2 linked regions of the Homo sapiens genome follow. The protein of the gene in region 1 interacts with the protein of each later gene in a pairwise test. Each region holds a gene or a part of one and is shown in the gene's direction. Other genes may lie near its edges.

The links. The genes of interacting proteins can lie anywhere in the genome.
Region 2: the proteins of DHRSX (region 1) and TMEM143 interact in binary tests that used the Homo sapiens proteins (3 or more experiments, as listed by UniProt).

What each region holds. Positions count from the first base shown.
Region 1 is NC_000023.11:2,238,843-2,246,373, reverse strand, and holds part of DHRSX (polyprenol dehydrogenase), read left to right. Parts: intron 1-3,143; coding exon 3,144-3,351; intron 3,352-7,531. UniProt on the Homo sapiens protein: Oxidoreductase that plays a key role in early steps of protein N-linked glycosylation by mediating two non-consecutive steps in dolichol biosynthesis.
Region 2 is NC_000019.10:48,332,755-48,340,285, reverse strand, and holds part of TMEM143 (transmembrane protein 143), read left to right. Parts: intron 1-6,088; coding exon 6,089-6,278; intron 6,279-6,852; coding exon 6,853-7,067; 3' UTR 7,068-7,531.

The sequences.
Region 1 (7,531 bases):
GGGATTACAGGCATGAGCCAACGCACCCAGCCCTCAATATTGTATTCTTATTTAGGAACAGCTTTTGTTGGTAAGAGGCATTGGATTTTCAGAAGCTTTTTCTGAAACGCATATGATGACGGATGTCTTTCTTTTGATCTTTTGAATGTGTTAAACATTCTTTTAGGCTTTTTGATCTTATCTTTAGTTTTTTAGCATAAATATCATGCTGATATTCAAACTATATCTGAGATGGCTTTGTGAACCCTGAAAATTTGAGACAGGTCTCAGTTAATTTAGAGTTTGTTTTGCCAAATTTAAGGACGTGAGCCTGTGACATAGCCTCAGAAAGTCCTGATGACGTGTGCAACGTGGTCAGGTCACAGCTTGTTTTTTTTTTGTTTGTGTGTTTTTTTGTTTTTTTGTTTTTTTTGAGATGGAGTCTCACTCTCTTGCCCAGGCTGGAGTGCAGTGGTACAATCTCAGCTCACTGCACCCTTTGCCTCCCAGGTTCAAGCAATTATCCTGCCTCAGCCTCCGGAGTAGCTGGGACTACAGGCACATGCCACCATGCCTGGCTAATTTTTTAATTTTTTTTTTTAGTAGAGACAGGGTTTCACCATGTTGGCCAGCCTGGTCTCAAACTCCTGACCTTGTGATCCGCCCGCCTTGGCCTCCCAAAGTGCTGAGATTACAGGCATGAGCCACTGCGTCTGGCCATAGCTTGGTTTTATACATTTTAGGGAGACAGGAGACATCAATCAATATATGTAAGAGCTACGTTGGGGTGGGTGCGGTGGCTCACGCCTGTAATCCCAGCACTTTGGGAGGCCGAGGCAGGCGGATCACCTGAGGTCAGGAGTTCGAGACCAGCCTGGCCAACATGGTGAAACCCCATGTCTACTAAAAATACAAAAAATTAGCCGGGCGTGGTGGCGGGCGCTGGTAATCCCAGCTACTCGGGAGGCTGAGGCAGGAGAATGGCTTGAACCCAGGAGGTAGAGGTTGCAGTGAGCCAAGATTGTGCCACTGCACTCCAGCCTGGGCAATATGAGCAAAACTCTGTCTCAAAAAAATAAGAAGTATAGTCCTTGAAAAGCAGGGACAACTGGAAGCAGGGAGGGGGCTTCCAGCTCACAGGTAGGTGAGACACAGATGGTTACATTCTTTTGGGTTTGTGATGAGCCTTCCCAAAGGAGGTGATCAGATATGCATCTATCTCAGTGAGCACAGGGGTGACTTTGAACAGAGTGGGAGGCAGGTTTGCCTTCAGCAGGTTCCAGCTGGACTTTTCCTTTGAGCTTCCCGCTTTTGGGGTGCCCAGATATTTTCTGTTCACAGCTTCCATCAGGATACATATACCATGTGGTTAATTCAGAAAATTAGGCCGGGCACAGTGGCTCATGCCTGTAATCCCAGCACTTTGGGAGGCCGAGGTGGGCAGATCACGTGGTCAGGAGATCGAGACCATCCTAGCTAACATGGTGAAACCTCGTCTCTACTAAAAATACAAAAAATTAGCCAGGCAGGTGGCAGGCGCCTATAGTCCCAGCTACTTGGGAGGCTGAGGCAGGAGAATGACTTGAACCCGAGAGGAGGAGCTTGCAGTGAGCCGAGATCACGCCACTGTACTCCAGCTGGGTTGACAGAGCAAGACTCTGTCTCAAAAATAAATAAATAAAAATAAAATTTAAAAATATATATATATATAAAAGAAGCAAGCGATATGAACCTTCAGCCACCTTGAAATGTTGTTACGATAATTGTGTAGCAAATTGATCGCCTCTGGGCATCTTTGGAGCCCCAGAGGAAAGAAAAACATTATTGCTCAAATACTTCTCCTTGTCTTATTGAAAAGAACTATGAGGCCAATTCTAAGGCTAATGATCTGTGCCTAGCATTAAATTCTAAAAGGAGTCTATGGTGGTTGTGTGCCTTCAAGGGACGTTATGTAACACCGCAAATAACATCTCTTTAAAAAGTGTTTCTAAGGCATACATAGAAAAAGTAGAACATATTTACAGGAGCAAAGCTGGAAACATCCAGTTTTCTGTGTTTCTGGTGATTGAGGTTACCAGAGAGAGAGAGAGAGGCACGTTACTCACTTTACCGCGGTTATCGGATCGATTTTTATCACTATGTCCTGTGATACTAAAACATTTCTCTAAACTGCTTGAACCAAGGTGCAAAGAGTTTAACATGTGCTTAGCACACTACAGAGCTTGCAGTAGATGTGAGGAAAATTTATGATAGCTTGGGAAGTTTGCCAAATTGCTTGTGTGGTTGTCTTTTATGATTTGAGACTCATCAAGAAGACCACATGTGGCCAGGCGCGGTGGCTCATGCCTGTCATCCCAGCACTTTGGGAGGCCAAGGAGGGTGGATCACCCGAGGTCAGGAGTTCAAGACCAGCCTGGCCAACATGGTGAAACCCTGTTCCCACTAAAAATACAAAAAATTAGCCGGGCGTGGTGACAGGAGCCTGTAATCCCAGCTACTCTGGAGGCTGAGGCACGAGATTCGCTTGAACCCGGGAGGCTGCAGCCTGGGTGACAGAGTGAGAATCTGTCTCAAAAAAAAAAAAAAAAAAAAAAAAAAAAAAAAAACAGGGAGCATAGTGGCTCCTGCCTGTAATCCCAGCACTTTGGGAGGCTGAAGCGGGTGGATAATTTGAGGTCAGGAGTTCGAGAGCAGCCTGGCCAACATGGTAAAACTTCCATCTTTGCTGAAAATACAAAAAATTAGCAGGGTGTGGTGGCGGGCACCTGTAGTCCCAGCTACTGGGGAGGCTGAGGTAGGAGAATCACTTGAACCGGGCAGGTGGAGGTTGCAGTGAGCCAAGATTGCACCACTGCACTCCAGCCTGGGCGACAGAGGGGGGACTCTGTCTCCAAAATAAATAAATAAATAAATAAAAAATTAGTAACATAATTTAACATATCTGACCCCAATACAATTAAGGGATGAGTTTATAATAAAAAGGTGAACTAGAAAAATCCACACGCGTTGGAAAACTGGCCAACAGATGGCATGATCACACATGGGTCTAGGGGAGGTGGCTGCGTATAGACGTGGCCGTGGCCGCAGGTACAGATGCTGCTGGGATGAAGCACTTAGGCGTGAACGCCGTCAGCCTCTTACACCTTCTCCTGCTTGCCCCACAGTGCCTGCTACTCACCCCACGCAGCCTACGCCCAGAGCAAGCTGGCCCTTGTCCTGTTCACCTACCACCTCCAGCGGCTGCTGGCGGCTGAGGGAAGCCACGTGACCGCCAACGTGGTGGACCCCGGGGTGGTCAACACGGACGTCTACAAGCACGTGTTCTGGGCCACCCGTCTGGCGAAGAAGCTTCTCGGCTGGTTGCTTTTCAAGGTAAGCCCCTTCTGCTTCTCTGATTCACGGCTGCACCTGAAGATGCTACAGGAAAGGGGGTCCCCAGTCCAGACCCCAAGGGAGGGTTCTTGGATCTCGTGCAAGAAAGAATTCAGGACGGCTCAGTGGTGGAAAGAGAAGCAAGTTATTGAGAAGGTAGAGGAGTAAATGAATGGCTCCTCCGCAGACAAAGCATCCCCGGCGGCCGCTGGTTGGCCATTTTTACGGTGATTTCTTGATGATATGCTAAACGAGGGGGGGATTATTCATGCCTCCCCTTTTTAGACCGTAGAGGGTAACTTCCTGACATTGCCGTGGCATTTGTAACTGTCCTGGCGCTGGTGGGAATGTAGCCGTCACGACAGCCGGAGGTCACTCTTGTCGCCATTTTGCTTTTTGTGGGTTTTGGCCCGCTTCTTTACTGCAAGCTGTTGTATCAGCAAGGTTTTTATGACCTGTACCTTGTAGCAACCTCTTATCTCATCCTGCGACTTAGCATACCTTAACCGCCTGGGAATGCAGCCCAGCAGGTCTCAGCCTCGTGTTACCCAGCCCCTATTCAAGATGGAGTCACGCTGGTTCACACAGCTCTGACACAACCACTTCCAGGCTGCGTGTGCGGTGTTGGGGGCTTGGATTCCGTGATGTATTTGTACATTCTCACCCCAAAGCCTTGGTTGTGTGCGAGCTCGGTGGGTGACGCTGTGTAGCTAGGTAGTGCCCATAAATGAATCTTCTTAGGAGCTGGAGACCGTTTGGGGATGCTGTGGTAGGGGCCAAGGGAAAAACATCCCCCTTTGCCATTTGAAGGTTTGCTGAAAAATCAACGCACAAAATACAATTGCCCTTTTTGAAACATGAATAAAGGAAATGACAGGCAAATGTATTCTCATCCATGGAGGAGAATGTCAGAGGAATTGCCCCATTACACAAAGGGGTACAGACGCTTGTGTCCTCTTCTTCTTAGCGGAAGGGGAGTGGGGAATTGGGGGTGAATATAGGATTCCAAATAGTAAATGATTTTAAAGAGAAGTCAATGGGTTTGAACAATGTACAGTGGCCCGAAAACAGATAATGTTTTTTGTTATTGTTGTTTGTTTGCTTGTTTTTTTTGAGACGGAGTTTCGTTCTGTGTTGCCCAGAGTGGAGTGCAGTGGCGGGACCTCTGCCCAGTGCAACCTCTGCCTCCTGGGTTCAAGCGATTCTCCTGCCTCAGCTTCCCGAGTAGCTGGGATTACAGGCATGTGACACCACGCCTGGCTAATTTTGTATTTTTAGTAGAGACGGGGTTTCATCACGCTGACCAGGCTGGTCACGAACTCTGGACCTCAGGTGATCCACCCGCCTCGGGCTCCCAAAGTGCTGGGATGATAGGTGTGAGCCACTGCGCCTGGCCTCAGATAATGGTTTATGACGAGTCTCTGCAGGGACAGAGGCTGTGGAACCCTCAGAACAGACAGTGGTTTATGAGGAGTCTCTGCAGGGCTGTTGACAGACATCAGTCTTTCCTCCGCGATGTGGGTTCAGAAACTCAGGGAAGGGGACACTGGTCATTTTTCCTTCTTTGACATGTCCAGACTTCAGGAAACTTCAGAGAACAACTTCATCCTGTGCATCGGGAGACACAGAGGAAGCAGGAGGGGGAAGTTAGAGAGATCTTGAGGCTTCTTCAGTTCAGCAGGACAAAGCACCGTACTTTGGGGTGTTGGTTTTTAAGACCCAGCAGCTGAAAGCTCCCACATTTCTGCAATGATCTTCGTTGTCGTGATGCATTAACTTCTTAAGCACTGCAAGATTTCATGCCCCAGCCATTCCCTTGGGTTTTTTTGTTTGTTTGTTTGAGATGGAGTCTAGCTCTATCACCAGGCTGGAGTGCCGTGGTGTGATCTCGGCTCGCTGCAGCCTCTGCCTCCCGGGTTCAAGTGATTCTCCTGCCTCAGCCTCCTGAGTAGCTGGGATTGCAGGTGTGCGCCACCATGCCCGGCTAGTTTTTGTATTTTTAGTAAAGACAGGGTTTCACCATGTTGGCCAAGCTGGTCTCGAACTCCTGACCTACCTCAAGTAATCTGCCCGCCTCGGTCTCCCGAAGTGCTGGGATACAGTAGTGAGCCACCGTGCCTGTCCTCCTTGAGGTCTTTTGAAGTGATATGTATCTGGGAGCTATAGATTTACTTTCTTTCCTATCTATCTCAAGTCGGGATACTAAAGTTTTAATAATTTGTTTACAAAACAAAGAAAGAACCTTGAGAAGCTTTTCTATTTCTCCCTTTACATTGCAGAATCGTCTAATTAGCATTTTTAAAAGTGTCTGCTTTTGAAACACCGCCACGATTCACCTTCAAAACCGCATGGGTTGAGGAATTTTCGGAAGAGCGATTCTAACTCAGCTTTCAAAATTCCTTGGGCGTCTACTGCTTGTTGAAGTTTCCCACCTCTTTCTGAGTCAGTTTAGACAGCTTTTCCCTTTAGGTAATTGTCTGTTTCATCAAGCTTTGGAATTAATGAGCTTGGTTACAAATTCTCTTTTCTCCCTGTTGGACTCCTGGCATTGCTCTTGATTTCGTCTGAAAGTCTCTCATGATATGAGCTGCCCGCCCCCAATGTGGACTTTTTGAGGGGATTAATTACTTCCCTTATTTTGCAGTTTGCTTTCTTATCAGTTGTTCTTCGAATCTCTCATTCCTCAAGCAAAGGAATTTCTTTTTTTCTTTTTCTTTTTCTTTTTTTTTTTGAGATAGAGTCTCGCTCTGTCACCAGGCTGCAGTGCACTGGCGCGATCTCAGCTCACTGCAACCTCCGCCTCCTGGGTTCAAGTGATTCTCCTGCCTCAGCCTCCTGAGTAGCTGGGACTGCAGGCACCTGCCATCAAGCCTGGCTAAGTGTTGTGTTTTTAGTAGGGACGGGGTTTCATTATGTTGCCCAGGCTGGTCTCGAACTCCTGACTTCGGGTGATCCGCCCACCTCGGCCTTCCTAAGTGATGGGATTACAGGCGTGAGCCACCGCGCCCAGCTGTACATCCCTTATTTTGCAGTTTGCTTTCTGATCTGTTGTTCTTCACATCTCTAATTCCTCAAGCAAAGGAATTTCAAAATATTAGTTATTTTATTAAGCACTAAGTATTCGCTAGCAATACACCAACACTAGGATACATTTCATCCTTATAAAACCCCCATGAATCCCTCAGAGAGTGACTTCAGTATCCAAGGAGAGCATTTGCTGTTTTTTTATTTTATTTAATTTATTTATTTTTTTTGAGACTGAGTCTTGCTCTGTTGCCCAGGCTGGAGTGCGTTGGCGCGATCTCAGCTCACTGCAAGCTCCGCCTCCCAGGTTCATGCCGTTCTCCTGCCTCAGCCTCCCGAGTAAATGGGACCACAGGTGCCCGCCACCACGTCTGGCTAATTTTTTTTTTATTTTTTATTTTTTTTTAGTAGAGACGGGGTTTCACCATGTTGGCCAGGATGGTCTTGATCTCCTGACCTCGTGATCCACCTGCCTCGGCCTCTCAAAGTGTTGGGATTACAGGCGTGAGCCACCACGCCCGGCCTCTTTTAAATTTTTTAGAGACCAGGTCTTGCTCTGTCACCCTGGCTGCTGTGCATTTTTTTTTTTTTTTGTAGAAACGGCATCTTGCTGTTCGCCCAGGTTGGTCTTGTGCGCTGGAATTATGACACAATCACTGGCTGCAACCTTGAAATCCTGGCCTCAAGTGATTCTCCCACCTCTGCCTCCCAAAGTGCTGGGATGACAGGCATGAGCCACCATGGCTGGCCTTGACATTATTTCTTTCTAAATATTTAACAAGCAAACTGCAACTTTAGCCACATGAATCATTCTTTAATCCTTTGATCATCATCTGCAAATTTGGATTAAAAATAACCACGGGGCATTGCTCGAGTGATACTGCCTTTATATAAGAGACAACATTGTGGAAACTTTAAAATTATAGAGCAGAAGAATATGCATTAGCCTGGAAATGAAATTAAAATAATGTAAGAATTTTAAAGAAAAGGCTATACAGCTGCAGTAGCTTGATGCTGTCTTTGTAATGATAATTCTGTATTGCTGTGTATGTATTATTTACTAGTGTGTATGCATGCATGCATGCATGCATTGTATATTAAGACTTGGAAGATCAGCTGGGTGCCGTGTCTCATGCCTGTAATCCCAGCACTTTGG
Region 2 (7,531 bases), on another chromosome or scaffold:
GCATGGTGGCACATGCCTGTAATCCCAGCTACTCTGGAGGCTGAGGCAGGAGAATCACTTGAACCCAGGGGGCAGAGGTTGCAGTGAGCTGAGATGGCATCACTGTATTCCAGCCTGGGCGACACAGTGAGACTCCATCTCAAAAAAAAAAAAAAAAAAAAAAATCCCAGTTGACAAGTTAATTTAGTGTATTCATGAATTCATGAGGTATTTCCCCACGCCTTGGGGTGAGGCCCAGCCTTTACATGTGGGCCCTTGGCTGGGTGCAGTGGCTCATACCTGTAATCCCAGCACTTTGGGAGGCTGAGGCAGGCAGATCACATGCAGTCAGGAGTTCGAGACCAGCCTGGCCAACGTAGTGAAACCCCATCTCTACTAAAAATACAAAAATTAGCCAGGCGTGGTGGCGCATGCCTGAAATCCCAGCTACTTGAGAGGCTGAGGCAGGAGAATCACTTGAACTCGGGAGGTGGAGGTTGCAGTGAGCTGAGATTGCGCCACTGCATTCCAGCCTCGGTGACAGAGCGAGACTCCCATCCCAACACAAACAAACAAACAAAGAAACAAAAAAACAGTTGGCCCTCCCAGACTCCCTCCTGGCTGGTCCCCTCCTGCGCTTCAGTTGCTCCCAGATCTCTGTCTTCATTGCAAGCCCCTCCCCTAGTCCCCTAATCTGGCTTCTCCTGTTCCCTGGACACACCCAAGCCCATGTGCAGCGTGTCCCCATGAGCCCAGAGTCCAGCTGCCTCAACCCTCCTGCTCCTCTCAAGTTCCCCATCTCACCTTGGAACAGGCACTCAGAGCCCCACTGCGGGATAAGGGGTGCGGGGAGCAAGGTGCGGGATGCGGAGTATGGGGCCCTCTTTCTTCCAAGACACAGGGCTGCTCTGCTTCTGTGGTTTCCACAGGAGCTCTCTACTGTCCATGATCAGATCAACCAAGAAGCTCCAGGCTCAGCCTCCCGGCTGGGGCCCTCACTCTCACTGTAGGCCAAGCACAGCGTCTCCCCTGACATCTTCTCTTCTGGGCTCCGCATCTAAGGATGACCTGTCATCCCGCCAGTCACTGGCTAGACCCCCAGCCCACCCTTCCTGTCCCACCTCTGTGCCCCCTGCTCAGGCCCTCTTCCCAGCCTCCAGTTGGTCCCTTCCAGCCCATTCCCCATTCTACCCAGTCCTGCCCTGCCCCTCCTCTGGGCACAGCCTGGCACCAGGGACCCTGCTTCCCAGCCTCACTGGACACAATCCTTCCCCTCGAATCTGCGCCTCAGCTCCTCCTGCATGCTTGCGGCGCCCCCACCCTGCCATCCCTCGTTCTCTGCCTTTGCCTGTGCTGTTCCCTTGGACTGAAATGCCCTTTCCTCTTGTTGGGCTGGCCAACCCCTGCTCACCCCTCACCCTCAGCTCAGAGGCTGCCTGCTCTGGGAAGCCTTCCCGGATGTCCCAGGCTGGGGTGGTGCCCCTGTGGGTTCCTCCATACCCTGGGCTCTACTGTGAAGCCCCTTAGCCCAGCACCAAGCAGGCCCATGGGGCAGCCTGGGGAGGGATGTTGAACTGGTGCCCCTGAGATGCAGCAGCCCGATCCTGCCCTGGAGGGAGAGGTGTGGGGTCCCTGGACACAGGCAGTCGGTCTGTAATGGAGGCGGCAGCTGGCACAGCAGGAGCCCGAGGCTGCATCTGCTCGTCCGCGAGAGGTGATGTCCATCCTGAGCCTTGAGGATGAGGCAGTGAACATTTTCCAAGAACACACCAGGGGTGGTTTGGCTTGTGCCTGGGCCTGGAGGCCTGAGAGAGCAGGACCTGTTCAGGGTAAACCGGCTTTTTCAGCATGCGCTGCATTCACAGGGGAGGAGCAGGAGGTGACAGGGAGGGCCTCGTGTGCCGGGCCACGGAGCTTGGACTCTGAGAGCACTGGGGAGCCATGGGAGGACCATGAGCAGGGGAGGGGCAGGGGCAGCTCTGAACCTATGTGCAGACAAACTGGACGGGGAGACTGAGGCCAGGGAGGAGGCTGGAGTGATGCAGGCGGGGATAAAGTCTGAGCCAAGGATGAGCTGGGGAGCTGCAGAGGAGGAGACGGGCAGAGAGAGTCAGGGGACTGCAGAATGGGGTTGGGACTGACAGGTTGGCGAAGGGGGAGCAAGGATGGTGCCAGGGGCCTGGCCTGTGACTGAGTAGGTGGAGGGGCTGCCCAAGACATAGACCCCAGGGTAGGAGGAGCGAGTGCTGTATTCCTTGTGGGCAGCGGTAGTGCTGAAGGGACCCTCCGGGTGGCAGGGGGACCCCTCTCCAGGGAGACTCTGGCTTCATCTGTGTGCCACAGAGTGACCTGCTCCTTTAACTAGAATTCAGCTCCATCGGCTTGGCAGATACTGACACAAACCCAATGTGTTTTTCATACCACACGGTCCCTAACGCATGCTATTCCTGCATCTTGCCCTCAACCGAAGAAATGGCGATTCGTTCCAATGCAGGCACCTAAACTGACTGTGCTGGCCTGGTGAGAAGAGGGTACAGTCCACATGCAAGCGTGTCATTGGTACCTTGCAGGCCATTTCAGCGATTTTCTGGGGTGCGCTGACTTGAGAGGCATTTCACCTCAGGCCTCGGTGTGAGATGGGAACACCCTATGGGCACCCAGCACAGGGTGTGGGTGACTGTTCCATAGTAGCTGATGTTTGGTAAGTGTTTCTGAGGGGCCAGGCTTTGTCCCAATGTTTTTTTTTTTTCTTCTTTTTTTGAGATGGAGTCTCGCTCTGTCCCCCAGGCTGGAGTGCAGTGGTGCAACCTCAGCTCACTGCAACCTCTGCCTCCTGGGTTCAAGCCATTCTCCTGCCTCAGCCTCCCAAGTGGCTGGGATTACAGGCGCCGCCACCATGCCTGGCTAATTTTTTGTATTTTTAGTAGAGACGGGGTTTCACTATGTTGGCCAGGCTGGTCTTGAACTCCTGACCTCGTGATCCGCCCGCCTCGGCCTCCCAAAGTGCTGGGATTACAGGCGTGAGCCACCGCGCCCGGCTGTCCCAATGTTTTATTAACCGTGTATTGACTTCCTGAACCCTCCCTGGCATTGGCATTGTTGTACAGACAGTGCTGACTGAGGACTTAGGTCTTACCAGGGGCAGCCGGTAAGGGTTTAGTGGGTCAGGCAGCCAGGCCTGCCAGCTACAGGGTCCAGTGGCCCTGAGCTCATTTTGTGGCTGAATGGAGGAATCTGGGTACAGGTACAGGTTTTCTTTTTTTTCTTTTTTCTTTTTTTTTTTTGTGAGACTGAGTCTTGCTCTGTCACCCAGGCTGGAGTGCAGTGGTGCGATCTCAGCTCACTGCAAGCTCCGCCTCCCAGGTTCACGCCATTCTCCTGCCTCAGCCTCCTGAGTAGCTGGGACTACAGGCACCCACCACCACGCCCAGCTAATTTTGTTTTTGTATTTTTAGTAGATACAGGGTTTCACCGTGTTAGCCAGGATGGTCTCGATCTCCTGACCTCGTGGTCTTGATCTTCTGACCTCGTGATCCACCCGCCTCGGCCTCCCAAAGTGCTGGGATTACAGGCGTGAGCTACTGCGCCCGACCGCTTTTTTTTTTGAGACACAGTGTCACTCTGTCGCCCAGGCTAAAGTGCCGTGGCACGATCTCGGCTCACTGCAACTTCTGCCTCCCGGGTTCAAGAGATTCTCTTGCCTCAGCCTCCTGAGTAGCGGGAATTACAGGCACATGACACACACCTGACTAATTTTTGTATTTTTATTTATTTATTTTTTTGAGACAGAGTCCCACTCTGTTGCCCAGGCTGGAGTGCAGTGGCGCAATCCTGGCTCACTGCAACCTCCACTTCCCGGGCTCAAGCGACTCTCCTGCCTCAGCCTCCCAAGTAGCTGGGATTACAGGTGCCTGTCACCATACCTGACTAATTTTTTTTTTTTGTATTTTTAGTAGAGACAAGGTTTCACCATGTTGGCCAGGCTGGTTTCGAACTCCTGACCTCAAGTGATCTGCCCGTCTCGGCCTCCCAAAGTGCTAGAATTACAGGCATGAACCACCGTGCCAGGTCTAATTTTTGTATTTTTAGTAGAGATGGGGTTTCACCATGTTGCCCAGGTTGGTCTCGAACTCCTAACCTCAAGTGATCTGCCCTCCTCATCCTCCCAAAGTGCAGGGATTACAGGTGTCAGCCACTGCATCTGGCCTGGGCACAGTTTTTCAGTGGGAGCCCAGAGGGCACTGATGCCCTCATTTCTCCTTACCAATATCAAGGATGAGAAGAGGGGTCCAAGCAAAGAGACTAACGGTGGGGAAGTGGGCAGCCAGTAGACAGCTGGGCCCAGACCTGTTCTTCCCCCCAACATCCTTCCCCTCTCCTCTTCTCTTTACAATTTAACTTTTTTCTTTTTTTGAGACAGGGTCTCACTCTGTTGCCCAGCCTGGAGTGCAGTGGTATGATCATGGCTCACTGTAGCCTCAGCCTCCTGGGTTCAGGTGATTCTCCTGCTTCAGCCTCATGAGTAGCTGGGACTACAGGTGCTCACCATCACACCCAGCTAATTATTATTATTATTATTTTTTGAGGCAGAGTTTCATTCTTGTTGCCCAGGCTGGAGTGCAATGGCATGATCTCGGCTCACTGCAACCTCTGCTTCCCAGGTTCAAGCGATTCTCCTGCCTCAGCCTCCCGGGTAGCTGGGATTACAGGCATGAGCCACCATGCCCGGCTAATTTTGTATTTTTAGTAGAGACGGGTTTCTCCATGTTGGTCAGGCTGGTCTCGAACTTCCAACCTCAGGTGATTCACCTGCCTTGGCCTCCCAAAGTGCTGGGATTACAGGCGTGAGCCACTGAGCCCAGCCTGCTATTGTTTTTTAATTTTAATTTTTTGTAGAGATGAAGCTTTTGCCATGTTGCCCAAGCTGGTCTTGAACTCCTGGGCTCAGGTGATCCACCCACCTTGGCCTCTCAGCGTTGGGATTACAGGCCTGAGCCACTGCACTTGGCCTACAGTTTAATATTTTAAACCATTTTTTCCTTCATTATAGAAAAGTTCAAACAAACACAGAAATAGGATAGTATGATAAACTCCACTAGCCAGCACCTAGCATCAACAATTAGCAATAGTTAATCAGATTTCCCCTGAAGACCTCCACTGTCCTACTATTGGATGATTTTGAAGTAAATCCTACCTAGACTTATTTGGAAATACTTTATTATGTCTCTAAAACATAAGGATGTATTGTAACAAAATCTTTCAAAGCTAAAACTCCTATCATCTGCAAACCTTTGGGTAAATCCATTAATACATGGCTCAGATGAGCAAACCAGTGCAGTGGTTGCTGAAAACTGTAGGCCAGATGGGGCTGGTGGTCTTGGAGCCACTGGAATGAGGGCACGTGTGTTAAAAATACAGATCCCCAGCCGGTGCCTTGGGTCACGCCTGTAACCCCAGCACTATGGGAGGCTGAGGAGCGAGGATCACTCCAGGCTGGGAGTTTGAGACCAGCCTGGTCAACACAGGGAGAATCCCGTCTCTACAAAAAATATCGGGCTTGGTGGCGCACACCTGTAGTCCCAGCTACTTAGGAGGCCAAGGCGGGAGGATCGCTTGAGCCCGGGAGTTCAAAGCTTCAGTGCGTTATGAGTTTGCCTGTGAATAGCCACTGAACTCCAGACTGGGCTACAGGGCGAGACCCTGTCGAAAAAAAAAAAAAAAGGAAAGAAAAGAAAGAAAGGAAGGAAGGAAGAAAAAGAAAGAAAGAAAAGAAAAGAAAGAAAGAGAAAGAAAGAAAAGAAAGAAAGAACGAAAGAAAGAAAGAAAAAGAAAGAAAGAAAGAAAGAAAGAAAGAAAGAAAGAAAGAAAGAAAGAAAGAAAGAAAGAAAGAGAGAAAAAGAAAGAAAAAGAAAAGACAGACCCCAAAAATCCCCAAATAGATCCCTCGACTGAGCTCTGGGGACCCGTACTGAAGAGGTCTGGGTAGGACCTCCCCGCCTCCTCAGGGGAGTAAGCGGCGTGGGCCGTGCCAGCGGGGGTGACCCCGGGGGCTGTGTATGGGTGGGGGCGCACCCCGAACTGAGCCCACGGGGCGCTGTCCCGCCTGCAGATGTTCGGGCAGCGGCGCAGCGCGCAGGCGTTGGAGCTGGCGCACATGCTGTACTATCGCAGTACGTCCAACAACTCGGAGCTGCTCAGCGCCCTGGCCCTGCGCGCGCAGGACGAGCACACCAAGGAGGCGCTGCTGGCTCACAGCTTCCTGGCCCGGCGGCCAGGGGGCACTCAAGGCTCGCCCGAAGGTAGGACGTGGCCCTGGGACCCTGCCCCCAGGGGCCACACCCCCGCGAGGCCCCGCCCCAGCGAGATGCGTCCCCACCCCCAGTTCCCACGGGTGAACCTGACGGGTTTGCGAAGAGACCCCGGCCCTCAGCAGACAGGACCTCCGAATCCAGACTCCGATCTTGGTGCCTGATGTGACAGCCCTTTCTTAACCTCAGCCTGGTTGGGAGTCTTGGCTCCATGGCACGGCCCCCTCCTGTCATTCTTTCCTCTACCTGAGCTGACACTCTCCCTACAAGAGATCCTGCGCGCTCCCTGTGTGGGCTCCAGGTGGTCCCCTTGCCTACAGGAGCCCCCACCTTCCCTGCCCAAGAGCCCCTGACTGGTCCCCAGACGAAAGCCCCAGAGCTGGGCCTTCTGGCCCTCTCGACCCTCCTGGGCCTTGTTCCGCTCCCCTCCAAGCCTCAAGATCACTCCTAGGCTTCTCCCAAACCCAGGCCCTTCCTGTTCTTTGCCCTACGCCCCTCCTTGCTGCTCCCTCGAATCTTCCCCGATCTCAGTGTGACCTCAGAACACCTGCCTCTCCCCTTGCAGAGACCTCCAGGTGGCTCCGGTCGGAGGTGGAGAACTGGCTCCTAGCCAAGTCAGGCTGTGAGGTGACCTTCAACGGAACTCGGGCCCTGGCGCATCTGCAGGCCCTGACCCCCAGCATGGGATTGTACCCACCCCCGGGTTTCCCCAAACTAGACCCAGTGGCTCCGATCACTTCCGAGCCCCCGCAAGCCACGCCCAGCAGTAACATCTCCTGAGTAGAACCTACCTCCCTGCCCAGTCAGCAGGCTAGGAACTAAGCCCCGCCTCCTTCACGACAGGCTGTCAATTACGGTTATTATACTTTTCACTCCAACTTCCAATAACTGACAGGTGATTATTTTTGCTGCACTGTGTGCTTAAGCAAAGCAGCCAATCAAAGCAGCTAGCAGTTGTTAAGTCTTCCCCGCCCCTTCGATGAACAGCCAATCAAAGCGATTTAGCTCTGCTTCTGTTCCATTTCTTAGTCCCACCCTCACCATAAACATCCAAGTGTGGTTTGGCTGAGGAGCTGAGGGTGTCTGCCAATCACAGCTGCTCAGCTCTGGCTTCTGTAAACCGCCAGGTAGAAGAGTTAAAGCTGCGCCCTCCCGAGACTATATATCATTGTCTTTTTCAGCCCGCTCCGGGCAAACTGCCCATCATGTGCACCAAGGCCGTTAGCCCTGCCTCCTGGCAAACG